Regions from separate parts of the Homo sapiens genome. Here region 2 is linked to region 1. Evidence: fine-mapped expression QTL. A gene starts in region 1. The other region holds a variant in brackets. All regions are shown on one strand. Distances are from middle to middle. Region 1 holds the start of LTC4S (leukotriene C4 synthase). Region 2 overlaps MAML1 (mastermind like transcriptional coactivator 1).

What was found.
Region 2: its variant is fine-mapped to the expression of LTC4S in whole blood (INTERVAL, PIP above 0.99). The same link has a PIP of 0.9 or more in cerebellar hemisphere, cerebral cortex, skeletal muscle and tibial nerve.

Annotation. Positions count from the first base shown.
Region 1 is chr5:179,789,802-179,798,119 of GRCh38, reverse strand. LTC4S (leukotriene C4 synthase) reads right to left here and starts at 4,134. Exons shown (of 5, transcript NM_145867.2): 1 at 3,982-4,134; 2 at 2,437-2,536; 3 at 2,264-2,334; 4 at 2,098-2,179; 5 at 1,473-1,867. The coding sequence starts at 4,039. The coding sequence ends at 1,726. It overlaps MGAT4B (alpha-1,3-mannosyl-glycoprotein 4-beta-N-acetylglucosaminyltransferase B), which reads left to right. Exons shown (of 15, transcript NM_014275.5): 15 at 52-510. The coding sequence ends at 75. RefSeq lists silencers at 1,494-1,705, 1,550-1,709, 1,730-1,779, 1,820-2,529, 4,075-4,144 and enhancers at 2,339-3,011, 4,495-4,644, 4,665-4,744, 4,319-4,946.
Region 2 is chr5:179,770,782-179,779,099 of GRCh38, reverse strand. It overlaps MAML1 (mastermind like transcriptional coactivator 1), which reads right to left. Exons shown (of 5, transcript NM_014757.5): 4 at 7,857-7,953; 5 at 1,817-5,205. The coding sequence ends at 4,223. Among named protein-coding and RNA genes, the nearest start is that of LTC4S, 19 kb to the left of the region's middle. RefSeq lists a silencer at 5,745-5,945. The variant G/C (reference allele first, on the strand shown) is at 5,192.

The DNA of each region.
Region 1 (8,318 bases):
GACCCTGGCGGAGCTCAGAGGCCCTGCTGACCCTGGGTCCGGCTCTTCCAGATCTTCCTGAAAAAGGCCGACTAAGCTGCGGGCTTCTGAGGGTACCCTGTGGCCAGCCCTGAAGCCCACATTTCTGGGGGTGTCGTCACTGCCGTCCCCGGAGGGCCAGATACGGCCCCGCCCAAAGGGTTCTGCCTGGCGTCGGGCTTGGGCCGGCCTGGGGTCCGCCGCTGGCCCGGAGGCCCTAGGAGCTGGTGCTGCCCCCGCCCGCCGGGCCGCGGAGGAGGCAGGCGGCCCCCACACTGTGCCTGAGGCCCGGAACCGTTCGCACCCGGCCTGCCCCAGTCAGGCCGTTTTAGAAGAGCTTTTACTTGGGCGCCCGCCGTCTCTGGCGCGAACACTGGAATGCATATACTACTTTATGTGCTGTGTTTTTTATTCTTGGATACATTTGATTTTTTCACGTAAGTCCACATATACTTCTATAAGAGCGTGACTTGTAATAAAGGGTTAATGAAGTGTGTGCCTCAAATGTGAGCGCCCTGGGCATCTCCCTCTGCCCCTGCGGTTGGCTTCATTTGGTCTGTGCCCCAACATGCCAACTAAGCCTGGCACTGGGCCTCCCCAGCCAGCATCAGCAGCGACCTTTCCCTGCTAAGTCAAGGAGCCAGCCTGGCCTGCAGGCGCGGGGTCCAGCCCCTGGCTGTGCAGCTGCAGTGCCACCTCGGCGCCAGCGTACCCCCCTTCCTAGGATCAGGCCGCAAAGTCTGTCACTGGTGAAACCAGCTCAGAATCTGGGACCACAATGCCTATAGCAGGTCCCCCGAATGTCTCCCCCATGTCCAAGGCCTGCGATGAGGCCTTCCCTTAGCTCCTCAAGCTGAAGGCATTTCCCAGCCTCCTTGTTCCCCTCCGTGTGTCTCAGCTTGGTCCTCATCCTGGGTCCCCGACACTCCTCTGGCACATTAGGGTCTCCCGCTCACCTCAGGGCCTTTGCACACACTGTTGCCCCTCCTTGGAAAGCTCTCCTTTCTCCGTTTCTCCTGCATACTTGGCTAAAAGTCACTTCTTTGTTTCTGTGGGCCTCCCCTGGATCCCCAAGGCTTCTGGACATTTCCTTGAGACCGCCTGTCACTGACTCACTTCGTTCCCATGGTGCCCGCAGCTCTGCGGACCTCGGAGGGCTGCCCTGAACACCTACAGTTAACGAGGGGGATCCAGTGCTGACCAAAAGAAAAACCCCTGCCCTCACCTGGGGAGAGAGCCACAGGCTCTATCTAGTGTCAGCTGTGAAGGCCAGGGGACGAGGGACTGCGGCGGCTGAGAGTCGAGGGAAGGCCCCTGAGGAGGGGGACCGGTGAGGAGACCGCTGAGCGCTAGGAGGGTGAACCCCGGCAGGACTGGGCGGCCTTGTGACCCCGAGGCTGAGTAGGGAGTGGGGTAGGAGGTGAAGACCGGATCCAGTCCCGCCCCAGGGGGAGGGCTCGTTCCTTCGCAGCCACTCTCACGCCGCCACTAGGAAGCCCGCCCCGGGCTGCCCGGACTCGGGCTGGGCCCCTCCAGGCTCCGTAGCCCGCGGTGCGCCACCCCCGCGGACCCAGAGAACGCAGCCCGGGTCTCGGTCACTAGAACTTTAATGATAGAGACTAGGATGCGGAAGCGAGCGCCCCTCCCCGGGGCAGCTGGAGGCTCCGGCTCTTCTTTCCCGGCTCCGTCGGCCCGGGGGCCTTGGTCTCAGGCCCACGGCAGCAGCGTCCGGAGCCGTCCGAGGAGCGCGGCGCGCAGCGCGGCCGGGAGGAAGTGGGCGAGCAGGCCGAGCGCAGCCAGCGCCACCAGCAGCCAGAGGGCGCGCGCGCTCGCGTACAGCGGTGCCAGCCTGCGGGCGGCGGTCAGCGGGGAGGTGGCGCGAGGAGGCCCGCTTCTTCCCCGCCGCAACCCTGGCCCCACGGGGACTTCCTCTGGCCGCCGCCAGGGCTCGCCCACCGAATCCCCAAAGGCGCTGGGCTCCGGCCCGTCGCCCGCCCCCAGCTTCGGTCCCGCTCCCCAGGAGCCCCGCCCGCCCGCGATCTTTCCCCGGCCCCGCCCCGCTCCCCGCCCGGCCCTCACCTGAGCTGCGCGGAGCGCGCGTAGCCCTGGAAGTAGCGGAGGCGCGCGAACAGGTAGACCAGGCCGCACAGGGCCGCCGCCCCTGCGAGAGGTACGCACGGGCCTGGTGAGCGCCCTGCGCGGGTCCCGGGGGTCCAGCGCGTGCGCCCCTGCCCCACACCCCGACCTTCATGAAAGAAGATGCCGGCGACCCAGAGCGTGGCGAGGAACAGCGGGAAGTACTCGCTGCAGTTCACCCTGCGGTGGGCGGGTGGGATGAGCGCGCCGGCCGGGATGGTCCTGCGACCCGGACCCGCCTGGGGCTCGCTCCCCGCCCCGCGCCCTCCCGCCGCGCCTCACTGGGCTCGGTAGACGCGCTCGAACTCGGGTGGGCCGGTGGTGAGCGGCGGCGACACGCGGAAGGCCCTGCGCGCCGAGATCACCTGCAGGGAGAAGTAGGCTGGGGGAGGAGGGGGAGCGGGAGTCAGGTCTGGACACCCGAAGCCCCAGAGATGGGAGTGGGAGGGATCCTGCAATCTGGCCCTTCACTTGGCCGTGTCCTCTCCTCCCTAAGGCGGAACCCCGCCCCCTCCCCGCCCGAGGAGACCTCTCGTCTCACCCATCCCTGGCCTGCCCTGTGTCCCTGACATTCAGCGAGGAGGGCAGGGCTGAAGCCTGGGGCGCAGAGAGGCCCTGTCCCAACCTGTGAGTGTATGGGGGAGGGTGAGTGATTCAGGCACAGGGACACCTGCTCCGCGAGAGAGACCACTTGAGTCCTTGTTTCTGAATCATTTCACTCTCAAAACACAGGCAAATGCAGCTTTCAGGTCCCTGGCCAGGAAGTGCCTCGGGAGTCTGAGGGCAGAGCTGGCTGCATCCTCCCAGGTGCAAGGAAGCACACTCCCTGTAGCTAACAGTCCCTGGTCACCCACCTACCAGCGCCCACCAGCAGGGCCCTCTGACCCTGCCTCAGGCCGGGATCACTAAAGCCTGCGTCCCTGTGCCTCCAAACCTCAGTTTCTCTGTTCCTGCATTCCGGTCCCAGGCCTAAATCTGACAGACACCTTCTCTCCTGCTCCCAGGAGGTTGCAGCTGGGACTCTCCTAGCCTAACCCCAGGACCCCAGGGCTGGGGTAGTTGCAGAGGGTGGGCTGGCCCTAAAGTTTCTCTGTGGGCAGGAGCCCTTCTCTTGGTCAGGTGAGGCCAGGCCAGACCACACACAGACCAGTGCTGGCTGTGCGCTCCCTCCCCAGACCTCCCGTCGGACCATCTCCCCCTGAGTCCTGCAGCCCTGGCACCTTTGGTTCTGGGCCCTCTGCAGATGGGTGTCACAGGGTGGCCATCCAGCTCAGTGCAGGAGCAGCTGGAGGTCAGGCTGGCCTGTCTGTTCAGCCCCTTCAGAGCCCCCTCCCCAGGCTGTGCCTTATCCTAGCCCACACACTGTGGAGTAGTGGTGTCTCTTAGGTGGCAAGGATATCTGGCCAAGGAATGTGTCCTTTAGGGCCAGTCTGAGAAAGGCATTAAGCAGGCTCTTTTTAGGGGGCTGGAGGAAGGAGTCCCACCTCTACCCTGCTCCACGTGGTCCCAGTATGGAGGTGCCTTTGAAGCAGAGCCAGGGAATGGGGGCCGCTTGCTGGGACGCCCAGAGAGGGGACAGCTGGAAAGAGCAGAGATCAGCTTCCCCAAGCCCATGGCTATCCTACCATTTGTCCTGGCACCCTTGCCACCCCCAAGTCCTACAGCTCTCACAGCCAGGTGCCCCCCAGTTCCCTGAAAGTCCCCACCCTCTTCCAGCTTGGGCCTGGGCTGGAGTCCCCACCTCTGCCCTCCACCTGGGCCTAGGGGGCAGAGGGCAAGCTGTAGGGATCTAAGGCCCACCCTCTTCCTAGATAGGAACCAGCCCACCTTGCAGCAGGACTCCCAGGAGGGTGACAGCAGCCAGTAGAGCTACCTCGTCCTTCATGGTACCGTCGGTGTGGTGGCACGGGCTGTGTGTGAAGGCGAGCTGGGGAACGCTTAGCCCCGTCTGCTGCTCAGAGGACGGCCCAGGAGAGGAAGAGCAGCCTCGGTGCTCTCCCCGCCCCATCTCAGTGGAGGGGGTGCACGGGGGTGTGACCATACCACACAGAGCCAGGGAGCCAGGCCAAGCCAGCAGGGAGGAAACCAAAGTCTGGGCAGGGGAGAGCAGCTAGCTGGAGACCGCCTCACCACTTCCTGCTTGTTCGTGCCCCTTCCTTGCCTAGTCCCGCGTGGCAGAGCCCAAGCTGTCCATCTGGGTCAGCTCCAGCTGTGGGTGTGCCCCCTGCTGCACCACCCCACTTTCTCCAGGGCCTTGCAGACCCCCACATCATGCTGGAGCCAGCCCCAGGCTCCCGGCTAACTCCTCCACCCACCTTATCTGTTCCCTGTCCCCATCCAGGCTGTTCCTGGCAACCCCTGCCAAACCCTCCTCTGCGGAAGCCCTTCCCAGTGCCTTTGGCTTCAGAATGGAGTCCCAGCGCCCCCCCAGCCACACTGGGCCCCACAAGCTCTTTCTCCTTCAGGAAACCTCATGCCTGCCAGCCTTAGTCGTTGTAGGGGTTCCATGCACAAGGGCCACCCTGCCAGGAGGAAACCTGTCCAAGGCCCCCTGGGTGGCGGGAGGGTCAGCCCTTGTGGGCCATCCCTCTCCCAGGCCTCTCTTGGGCCTCCCACAACAGTCACCTGCTGTGTCTTTCTGCCCCGCAGCCCTCTTGCCTCAAGGTAACAACCCTCCACCACCTTCCTAGACGGCTGCCCTCCCCACACTCAGGCCCTGTGGTCTGGACAGTGCTGACTCCTGCCCCTTCCAGGCCTGTGAGATGGACACTGAGCCAAGGCTGACTCAAGATGGTGAGATGTAGTTCTGGAAACTTCCTTAGGACTTTGGGACAGGAAACTCAGAGTGGGGAGGGGGACTACGGCGGGCCACCCTGAGGACAGAGCCCACGCAGGGCCAGGTGGAGAGGAAAGGTGGCACCCGAGGACTCCTGCCTGGAGTTCTGGGTGTCTCCCTCGCCCCGCCTGGAGCGCCCCCGGCCGCCCCCCTCGCCCTGCCTGGAGTGCCCCTGGCCGCCAGCCTTCCCAGTTGGGCCTAACGGTCACTTCCTCTTTTGGCTTGAGTGGGTTTGCGGTGGCTTTTGGTCAGAAGTGGCAAAGTCCAGACTGACCCAGAAGCACGGGCAGGAGCTGGGGGAGGCCACAGGCCGTGCTGCAGGGGTCGGGCCGCATGGTTCTGCCCTCGCACCTGGTCCTTCCTTGCTGCCCCAAGCTCAGCTCCAGCCTGAGGCTCGGAGCCTGTTGGGCTCTCTCAGAATCCCTTCTTCCTCCTCTGGGTATCGCCCCTGCCCCCGGAAACCAGATATGCCCCAGCTGGGGGCTCTGTGAGCTCCTCCAGGGCAGGGGCCAGGGCTCAGGCCCGGCCCCTGCTTTAGACCAAGCTGTGACAGTCATCTTGGGGCTCAGTGATGGAGGACTGCCTCCTAGATCCCGGACACAGATGTAGTGCCAGGGAGCGATGGTGGCCGCGTCCTCAGACTCTGCCCACTCAGCCTCCTTCCTCCCTGAAACCTGCCCCACAGGGCCTGCCTGAAGGGTGGGATGCAGCCCACCACGCAGGGGTTGACGCTGGTGCCAGTGGGCTGTGCCCAGGGTGTCTGTGTGCACCACGCATACATACCTGCATGCCCCTTGGTCAGTTGTCACACACCCATGTCTCTGTGCTTGTGGGTGTCCAAGTGTCTTCGTGAGTCCAGGCCCTCCTGTCAGCCAAGCTCTCATTTCCTCCAAGGCCTGAATGTCCTCCCGTCGGAGTTCATCCCCTCAGTCCACAGCAGGAAGCCAAAGCCTAACATCAGCAGCTTCTGAGGAAGTCCCTTGGCAGATGTGCAGGGCAGGGACCTGGGTCTTGGCCCCGGGAGCCCTCCCCGGGTCTCTTGGTTCCCACCTCCCTCCCTCTGAGCCTGCCCAGGCTGTCAGGGCCCTGCCTGGGCTCAAGCCAGCTCAAGCTGACAGGAGGGCCAGCCAAGCCCCCACCCCTGCTCGGGCCACCCAGCTTCCATCTTCCTGTCTAGCTCTGGAGGCACCAGCATCAGGAGGGAAGCGAAAGCTCCTCCCTGAGCCTCCACAGAGCCCTAAGGAGTCTCTGATGCCCACTCACCAGGACCTCTGGGCGGCAGAAAGGCCGGCAGAACCATTGCACAGAGAAGAAATCAGAACTTCTGTGGAGTGGATCATAGGCAGTGCACAACTCAGACCCTGAGCTTGAACAAGAAAGTTTATTTAGAAATTATTTTATATTTGAGACAGGATCGTGCTCTGTTGCCCAGGCTGGAGTGCAGTGGCTCAACATGCCTCACTGCATCCTCAAACTCCCGGGCTCAAGCAATCCTCCCACCTCAAGCCTCTCAAGTAGCTGGGACCACAGGCTCTAATTTTTTTTTTTTTTTTCCAGAGATGGAGTCTTGCTATGTTGCAGGCTGGTCTCAAACTCCTGGGCTGAAGTGATCCTCTGCCTCAGCCTCCCAAAGTGCTGGGATTACAGGCATGAGCCACCATGCTTGGCTGAAATTATTTTAGACTTACAAAAAAGTTGCAAAAATCTACAGTCTCGGCCAGGCGCGGTGGCTCATGCCTGTAATCCCAACACTTTAGGAGGCTAAGGTGGGCGGATTACCTGAAGTTAGGAGTTTGAGGTCAGCCTGGCCAACATGGTGAAACCCCATCTCTACTAAAAATACAAAAATTAGTCAGGCGTGGTAGCAGGCACCTATAATCCCAGCCACTTGGGAGGCTGAGAGAGGAGAATTGCTTGAACCCAGGAGGCAGAGGATGCAGTGAGCCAAGATCACACCTGAGCGACGGAGCGAGACTGTGTCTCAAAAAAAAAAAAAAAAAAAAAAAAAAAAAAAAAAAAAAAAAAAAAACTTGTATAACCAAAATTCAGTTATAAACCAAGAGATTTCCATTGATACAAGTTAGTAATCAAGTATTTTACGGATCTTATTCAAGTTTCACCAACTGTCCTACTGGAATAGTACAAAGACCTCAAAAACTTTATGCTAAATTGTGCCAGGCTGGGCATGGTGGCTAACGCCTGTAATCCCAGCACTTTGGGAGGCCGAGGTTGTGGACCACCTGAGGTCGGGAGTTCAAGACCAGCCTGACCAACATGGAGAAACCCTGTCTCTACTAAAAATACAAAATTAGCCGGGCATGGTGGTGCATGCCTGTAATCCCAGCTACTCCGGAGGCTGAGGCAGGAGAATTGCTTGAACCCAGGAGACAGAGGTTGCAGTGAGCCAAGATCGCGCCATTGCACTCCAGCCTGGGCAACAAGAGCGAAACTCCGTCTCCAACAAAAAAAAAAAAGAAAAGAAAAGAAAAAAAAAAAAAGGCACAGAGAGGGCCAGGCGCGGTGGCTCACGCCTGTACTCCCAGCACGAGGTGGGCAGGTCACGAGGTCAGGAGATCGAGACCATCCTGGCTAACACGGTGAAACGCCGTCTATACTAAAAAATACAAAAAATTAGCCGGGGGTGGCGGTGGACGCCTGTAGTCCCAGCTACTCTGGAGGCTGAGGCAGGAGAATGACGTGAACCAGGGAGGCGGAGCTTGCAGTCAGCCGAGATCGCGCCACTGCACTCCAGCCTGGGCAACAGAGCTAGACTCCGTCTCAAAAATAAAAAAATAGAAAAATTAAACCATAGACTTAGAGAAAACATTTGTGAATCATATATATGATTAAAAAAATACTTTGAATTCAAAATATATAAAAACTCTCAAAACTGGATAGTAAGAAGACAGTTTCCTGAGTAAATGGGTGCAGATCCCTGTAGGGCAGAGATCACCTGCTGTACAGCTGAGAACTGATTCAGTCTGGAAGTGGCCTGGGATCGTGAGAACCTGAGTCTTTACTGGGGCAGCTGGCCTGGCTTCTCTCTGCTTCTCTGTTCTTCTTCTTTTCTTTCTTTCTTTCTTTCTTTTTTTTTTTTTTTGAGACAGAGTCTAGCTCTGTCGCCCAGGCTGGAGTGCAGTGGCGCCATCTCGGCTCACTGCAAGCTCCGCCTCCCAGGTTCACGCCATTCTCCTGCCTCAGCCTCCCGAGTAGCTGGGACTACAGGCGCCCGCCACCACGCCTGGCTAATTTTTTGGTATTTTTAGTAGAGACGGGGTTTCACTGTGTTAGCCAGGGTGGTCTCGATCTTCTGACCTTGTGATCCACC
Region 2 (8,318 bases), 19 kb after region 1:
TGTCACTTTCTTAAGAGACCTACGTTGCTACCGTGTCTACAGTAGTCTGTGGCTCACCCCAGCCTCTGCAGCCCCACTGCCCTCTCTCATTACCTGGCTTTAGTTTCTCCCTAACACTTACCTCACCTGTGTAAGAACTCCTTCCCATGAGACTGTGAGCTCTGCGGTACAGGGACCTTACCTTCCTGTACTGCCGCAATTTCTATCATATTCCCTGCCTCTAGGGCAATGCCTGGCCACAGCAGGTGCTCCCTAAACATTTGCCAAGTGAACTGTCCCTTACCGAGTCCTCCTCCATCACCCCCAAGCCTGGCTGGTGACCTGGAGAGACTCGGGGTAGTGGCAGGCTGCAGGGATCTGGAACTGCCTGGGCCTTGCCACTACTGAGGCCTGGCCATCCGATGTCTCCTTTGATTCTGAAAGTTACTGGGAACCTTAAAAATGGGCTGTAGGGAAATAATTTATAGGATTATATTAGCCAGATTTCTTTTCTATTGGCTTGCAAGTTAAGAGCCCCAACAAAACCATTATTCCAAATGACTGTCCAAAACCTTCATAAATATTTCAAATGGCTGCATCCTATCTCATGGAGTGGAAGCACCAGTTTGCTTAACCAATCCCCTAGGGCAGCAGTTTAGCATCTCATTTTCTGCGACTGTAAACAGCCATACTAAGAACACCACTGTGCTGTACCTTTTTCTATACCCAGAATCATTTTCAAGGATCGCTTCTCAGAATTGCAACTGTCCAGGCAGACACAGCACGAACATTTTAAGGAGCTTGATAACTTCTACAAAATTTCTTCCCACGAACAATCATACGGCAGCCAGCCTCCCATCCTGCAGCCAGCGCTGGGTGCCGCTCAGCACTGTGCATCTCACAGGTAGGGCCACTCACTTCTGTTCTCGTTTGTGTTTTTAGATCACTGCAGATAACGTGCATTCTTAGCCAAGAATTCACAGGGAGTCTCCGGAGTTTTCCTCCTTTACTGCGCCTTCTATGGCAAGGCCACGAACACTGTTTCCTGTGTGTCACAGATGTCTTCCCCTTTTTATTAGCATAATCTAGCTTTTTGAGTCTATCATGGCATGGTTCCTCCCTGTGGTCCCCTGAAGGCCATTCTTCTCTGCCCTTTGAGGAACTCCAGCCTCTCCCAGGCTGCCCTGCTCCCTGCTCCCAGCAAAGCAAAGCAGGGAGAGTTCTGAGGTGAGCGGCCCCATTCACCCTTTCAGTCCAGGCTCCATCATCTGGTCCCCTTTCACAGTGTGACATGCCAGAGCACATCATTCTTACAATTAAAAAAAGGGAAAACCAAGCTCTATGCTGAAAAGCAACTAAATAGTACATGGAGCAGACAGACTTCAGGGGCAAACCTAAGGGTTCTACATGAAGCACGAGAAGCACAGTCGTCCGGCCCAGCTCCCTCCATCAGCCGCATGGATGCCCGTGAGTCCCGGAGACAGGCTGCTTTCTCAGGGTGATGCTAGAGCTAAGAGAGCACAGTCGTCCGGTCCAGCTCCCCTCCATCAGCTGCATGGACGCCCGTGAGTCCTGGGGCCAGCCTGCTTTCTCAGGGTGATGCTAGCTCTAATTTAGTATCTATCAGCAGATAACAGAAGCTCCTCTGAGGCTTCAACCAAACCAGCTCCCACCCAACAATGTGCAATAAGAAAGCAGCTAAATCTATGACTCGACAAGCATTTCTTTAAAAAGAAAAAATTAAAAAACCAAGAAAAGCAAGCAGCTAAATTACAAAAGAAAACCAATCCCCAAACTTCTGCCAGCAGACCCCAGGTGACGTCAAATACAAAGGTTGTTTCCATACTAGCAAAATACTTTATTTTTATAATGATAAAACAAGGAAAGTAAAGATTTCTTTTTGGTGTATACCAGAGTTAAGGGCAGTAGAAGAATATGGGGATTAATAGGACTTTTATGAACTTTTGATGACAATAAAAAGTTAACAATACCAACCGTTTGCCATAAAACTTATCATAGCTCCCCCAAAACACACATATAAAGGATCATAGTTTTAAAATCTATAAAAGTAAAAAATATACAGTTGGAAGCTCTAGCGCTTATTCCATCTTTCATATAAAATTGTAAACATTTATTTACACAAAGCAAATGTGTATAACAAAAGTCTGAGCACCCTTTTCTTCTGAGTTGTGGCTCCTGGAAGACGGGGCTGTGCACAGAAGCAAAGTCATCTCCTCCCCTGACTCCCGAAAACCAGGTTCATAAATAAAGCCATGGGCAGCTCCCTGGGGGGACCCCAAGAATCACATTTTATTGCTATGACACTGCAGCAAGTGAGGAGCCCCCACTGTGTCGCCGGCCCCAGGACTAAGGCGGAGTGCAGGGCCAGCGAGCCCCGGGGACAGGGGTGGGAGACGGGGCAGCAGCCAGATGGGGTCAGGAGAGGAACAAGGATCCACAACCAGCCTTCAGCCGATTTTTGGGAGAAAAGCCGCTGAGGTCACCCTCTTCCCCTTCAGATTGGGGAACTCCCTCAGAGGGTGAAATTTTCACTGGCTTTATGATTCACCCCTTCTTTGAGAGCTAAACTGAGTACATGGGAAAGGTAGGGAAGGTGTTTTAAGGAGAAATGGCCGACATACCACTTGGGGTGGCAAATGGCTATTAGAAAAGAAGATCTGAGGGTCCAAGTACCCCCAGTGAGAAAGGCACTGCTGGTGCAAAATAACTACCAATGTGTGTACAACCTCTCGTCCCCTCACCGCGACTCAGGCTGGTTGCATGAGTATTTTCCTTGGCTCAATTCTCACATAGGACACTCCTGAATGATCCATTGGGAGACTCCAGGGAAACAGAAGTGGGGCTGCAGTTTCTCCACAGAACACTCTGCATCTGAGCCACTTTTCAGCATTCTCTTTTCTCTCCACCATTCTGTGTAAAAGGGTCTCACCCTGTGCTTACCACTTTGCTTTCGTTACGGGGAAGTGCTCTCTCCATCTTCGTTTTCCAAAAACAGCTCACATGTCATATTCTATTTCGTGGACCCTCAGCTTAGTCAAGTCCACTTGAATCTTTAGAAAGGATGTCTTAGTGTTATAAAGCAATCTCTTTAAGAAGTGCAAGTCATCTGACATGGGAGTGGCAGAAGTTGTCAAACCAAGTGGAATTGCTTCCTCCGGGCCGGCCTACGGCCTCCTTCCCCAAAACCTTTATGCTAAGGTTCCCTTAGGAATTCTAAGACTCTTCCTTTCCCTCCAATGGAGTAAATAATTGTTTTCCATTTGGGCTGCAGAGAGGAAGGAGAGGCAGACAGAAAGGCCAACGGTAAAGGAAAGACATCTGTGCACAACTGCACAGTGACCACGCTCCCACCATGGGCAACATACATGTTCAGAGAAAACTGCAGAAGGTGGGGAGACATAATACTCCAGGATACAGGACCCCCACATCTCTACCTTCCATATGTAGCCTGGGGTCCTGCTGCCAGGACATGGGAGGAAGGGATTCCTGGGGGCCTTGGGAGGGAGGAGGAGGAGCTGCTAGGAAGACCCTAGCTGTGTCACCAGACCTGCTATCCCATGCCTCCTGTCCCTTTTTGGCATACGCAGTCAACAGCCTGCACTTAGGGAAATAATTTTCCAGTGGCCTCCTTCTCCCCTGAAAGCTGACAAAGAGCAGAAACAAAAAAGGCTCTTAATCAAAAGGAAACCCTAGGTTTCCAATGCCACTTAATTGATTTAAACCATCACCTACCCTAATCTGTTTAAAAACCTTTTGTAAAAAAATTTAAAAATCTTTTCTATGCTACAAATTGCAAATAATTCTGCTATCTAAAGTTTCAACAGAAACTTGTCCCCAGCACTGGGGTAAGTGGAGCAGTCTTGGATAAAATCACCATGATGGCACAGATTTTTATAAGCCCGACAGTGTGGGGTTTCACTGGTGTTACTGTTGGTTTTTTGGTCGTTTGGATAGAAAACCACCTTTAGAACCCTATCCTGCTGTCCCAACACCAGGTACTGATGCCAGCAGATGGGCTGGGGCCAGCCCGATGGACCTCAACTGCTGGCCTGAGGGGCGCAGCCACAGACCCTGCCCAGGGCCAGGCCTCACCTGGAGCTTGGGCTCTACCTGCCCAGCTCCCCAGGCCATGGGCTTTTGGTCCAAAGTAGTTGCTCTTTCTTTGAATCTGAGAATAAAAATATAGGATGAATGAACACTAAAAACACTACAAATCCTTCCATTACTGAGACCCTAACAGGTCGTCCAAATCACTCATCCACTCCTCTGAAGTCCTGTTCTTCAGCAGGGAGTCGATCAGATCGGTGTGTCCAGCCACACTAGAGAGCCCACTGCCACCTGGCTGCCCGCTATAGGCAAAAGGCAGCTCCTGGCCCGCGGTCCGCACAGGGTAGGCCTGGGTGCAGTGCAGCCCCGCCCGACCGCCCATCTGTGAGGCAGGGCTCTGGCTGAAGGCCCCCAGCTCAGGCCCTGCTGGGCTCAGGCCAGGCAAGCCCTGCTGAGGGGCTGTTGGGGGTGGTGCTGGGGCAGGGGCGCTGGTCCTCTGCTGTGCACTCACTGGGGGTAGCAAGGACCCCACGGCAGCTGCTGAGCTCATGGGAGCCATGGGCCTGTTGGGCACTGCCTGGGAGAATTGCGGGCTAGACATTTTCAGGTGGGCCTGCTGCTGCATGTGGAAACTGGAGGCTGCAGTGAAGGGACTCACGTTGCTGTTCCCTGGGGTCTGGCCACTGAGGTTCGGCATTCCCTGATGCTGCCAGGAGGAATTCTGGCCTCCCATGGCTGGTGACACCCTTGGGACCGGTGGCTTTGTTAAACCAGGGTTCAGGGTCCCCTTATTGTGCTGCTGGGAGAGGCCAGAGCTTCCCAGAGAGTTCTGCCCATAGGCAGCTGAGACGGAGGTGTTCTGGCCCACGTTGGTCTGCCGTGGAATGTGGGCATGTCCATTGGTGGCCTGTGGCGGGGGCTGGGCAACTATCTGGGTTATGCCAGAAGCCATGCCATAGAGGCTGCTCTGAGGCATGTTTTGGGAGCCAGGGAACTGAGCCACACCCCGGTCCTGTTGGCCTGAGTTTGTGGGGAGAGAGGAAACTGAAGCATGTCCAGGGCCCATTGGCATCAGATTCCCAGCCTGAGGGAACACTCGAGGACAGCTGGAGTTGGATGGACCCAAGGTGTTCATGCCGGGCAC[G/C]GCAGCAGAGGACCCTACAAGACAGAGAAGAGTCTGGCAGTCAGGAGTCGACCACCACTGGGTCCCTCTGAGACTCGAGCCGCAGCACCAGAAGTCTCACGTTCACGGCACACTGGGAAGAGGGCCCCGGGGGCCATGGGGCAGAAAGCCTTCCACAGGTGGAATGGAGGCCTGGTCTCTGAAACAATGATGGGGTTCAGAAAGGCACAGAGGAAGGGCAAAGCCCCAGGGGAGAGAAAACCAGTGACCTACTTCATCTAACTTTCAAGCACCCACCAAATTTCTGCTCTGTGGGGACCCTGTGGTGGGCACCGGGGACTCTGAGGTGGACCCAACGCAAGATCCGCCTCTGGGAGGCAAAGTTAGCACATGGCACGATGGGGCGCAATGGGGCGCGATGGGGCGCGCCTGGCCAGCAGGCTGCAGGGTGCAGGCTGGAAGCCCTGGCATCTGGGAAGCCTTGGGCAAGGCTTGAGAGAGACAGTGATGAATCCACTAGGTTTAAAAGCACAGAAGTTTAGCAATTTAACAGTTTGGGGAAAAAGAGCATTCCAGGCAAGTGTGTGCAAAGGCAGAGTCAGAAAAAGGCATCTGTGTGGGGAACTTTCAGAGACTGGCCGTGGCCGGGATATGCAGACAGTGGCCAGCTGGTTAGAGATAAAATGGAAGAGCTAGTTCCGGCCAGATAGGGAAGAGCTGTGGATGGCGTGTGAAGAACGGGGTTGTGGCCGGGCGCGGTGGTTCACGCCTGTAATCCCAGCACTTTGGGAGACCGAGGCGGGCGAATCACGAGGTCAGGAGATCAAGACCATCCTGGCCAACATAGTGAAACCCTGTCTCTACTAAAAATACAAAAATTAGCCAGGCGTGGCGGCGCGCGCCCCCAGCTACTCGGGAGGCTGAGGCAGGAGAATTGCTTGAATCCGGGAGGCGGAGGCTGCAGTGAGCCGAGATCATGCCACTGCACTCCAGCCTAGGCGAAAGAGCAAGACTCTGTCTCAAACAAACAAACAAAGAACAGGGTTGTAAAGCCCAAGAGTGGCTGGACTGAGAGTGTGGCTGAGACCATGCTGGGGAGAGGCTGTTCAGTCACGGAGATGAGGGAGGGCAGACCATGTGGGAATGGGGGGTGGAGGTGCAGAACTGTGTGACAACATCTCACCAGACAATATACCATCTTATGGCACACCATTTATACTATGAAATGACAAGGTGGCCAAAGGAGGGAGGAGTCGCAGGAAATTACCAGATCTTCACTGAGTACCCACTCTGTGGCAGGTGCTGTGCTGGAGAGACAGCAGAGGGTGGAAGAGAAAGCACCCCTATGCTCAGGGAACTGCTGTCTAGGCCTCCTGGCTTAAGCAATGGACATATGACAACACCATTAACTGAATTAGGTTTTGTGGGTAGGAGAGTCATTGTTCAGGGATTGGCCGTAACTCAGTGCTTTGTTCTTCTTCCTCTCTACTAGCAACCATATAATAAAAATTGGGGCCGGGCACGGTAGCTCACACCTGTAATCCTAGCACTTTGGGAGGCCAAGGCGGGCAGATCACGAGGTCAGGTATGTGAGATCAGCCTGGCTAACATGGTGAAAGCCCATCTCTACTAAAAATACAAAAATGAGCCGGGCGTGGTGGCAGGCGCCTGTAATCCCAGCTGCTTGGGAGGCTGAGGCAGGAGAATCGCTTGAACCTAGGAGGTGGAGGTTGTAGTGAGCCAAGATCGTGCCACTGCACTGCAGCCTGGGCGACAGACCAAGACTCTGTTTCAAAACAACAACAATGAAATTGGGTTGAGGAAAAGAGGAGAGCTGAAACCGGCTATTTCATTCCCATCAATAATCCACAAAATGTCAGATGGGTCTGAAGGCAGAAAACATGGGTCAGACCCATGCTTCTGAAATGCCTGCAGATTTCAACCCCACGTTGACCCCAGGTAGCACATACATAAAACCGTACCTGGTCTCCTCCAGGACACACAGCTGTGGTCAGTCTCTCTGGGACCCTTTATAGCAAGGTCCCAAATAAGGAAAAACAGAGGTTTCTAAGACATTCTGAGAGGAGCTAGGAAGGCGGGCAGACCAGAGCTTCCTGTATCCATTCCCTGAAATCTTTGTGCATTTCTGGAGGGATGGCCTATGAAGTTCCCTGGCACATCTCAGAGGCGACAGCTAGACTCAAGTGTGCTTCCTGCCCTTTTCTGGCCAACTGTCCACTAGTGATGCTGCCATCTGTGATATTCAAGTGAGCAGACAGGAGGAGAGAAAGAAGCCAAAGGCCACGCAAGTGCATTAAGTCCTTATCTGGAAGATAGGAGTCATTTTTTGAAGACACATAAAAGCAGAAGCAAAGAACTTTCTTGAGAATTACAGAAGCTATTTCCTGCTGATAAGATGTCCTCCAACTAGAAATGATTTTGCTTCAGAAAACTGTACAGCCAGGGACCCAGCAAAGGTAGTTCTAGTGGTTTGCCTCTGTGCCCTCTTCTCCTGATGCCGTGGAGTAACTAGAAAACCAGGCCCCTTAGGCAAACTGAGGTGTATATGATGACAATGCATGCAGCCTGATGAAGTCAAGGCATAGAGCTGGGCAGACAGCAGGGATTCAACCAGCACCAGGCAGCGGCCTCCCCTGTCCCTGCTCGTCACACAGACACCCCCTACCTGTGAACTGTCCAACCTGCTGTGGGAAGCTGCCTTGTGTCGGGTCTTGGTACTGGGGTGGTGGGCGGGTCAGATGGCGCTGAAACTGTTGCTTCTCCTAGAAAATGCCAAGAACAACAAAACAAAACCAACATATAACAAAATCCAAAACAAAGGGAGTGAGGGAGGTCAGAGAAAAGTAACTTATCCAAGTTTGTTACTCACAAATGGGCTCCTGTGGAAATAGTGCTGATTTCATTTTGGGGTTTTTAAATAGTATGAAACAGATCTAGGGAGCAATGACTTTTTTAAAAGGTAGGTATACCTGTTTTTAAAAAATGGAGAGCTGGTTAGGAAAATGCAAATCACAGCTACAATGAGATCCCACTAGGATGGCCAGAATCAAAGTCAGATGATAACAAGTGGTTGGTGAGGATGTAGAGAAATCAGCACCCTCATACACCGCTGGTGGGAATGTAAAAT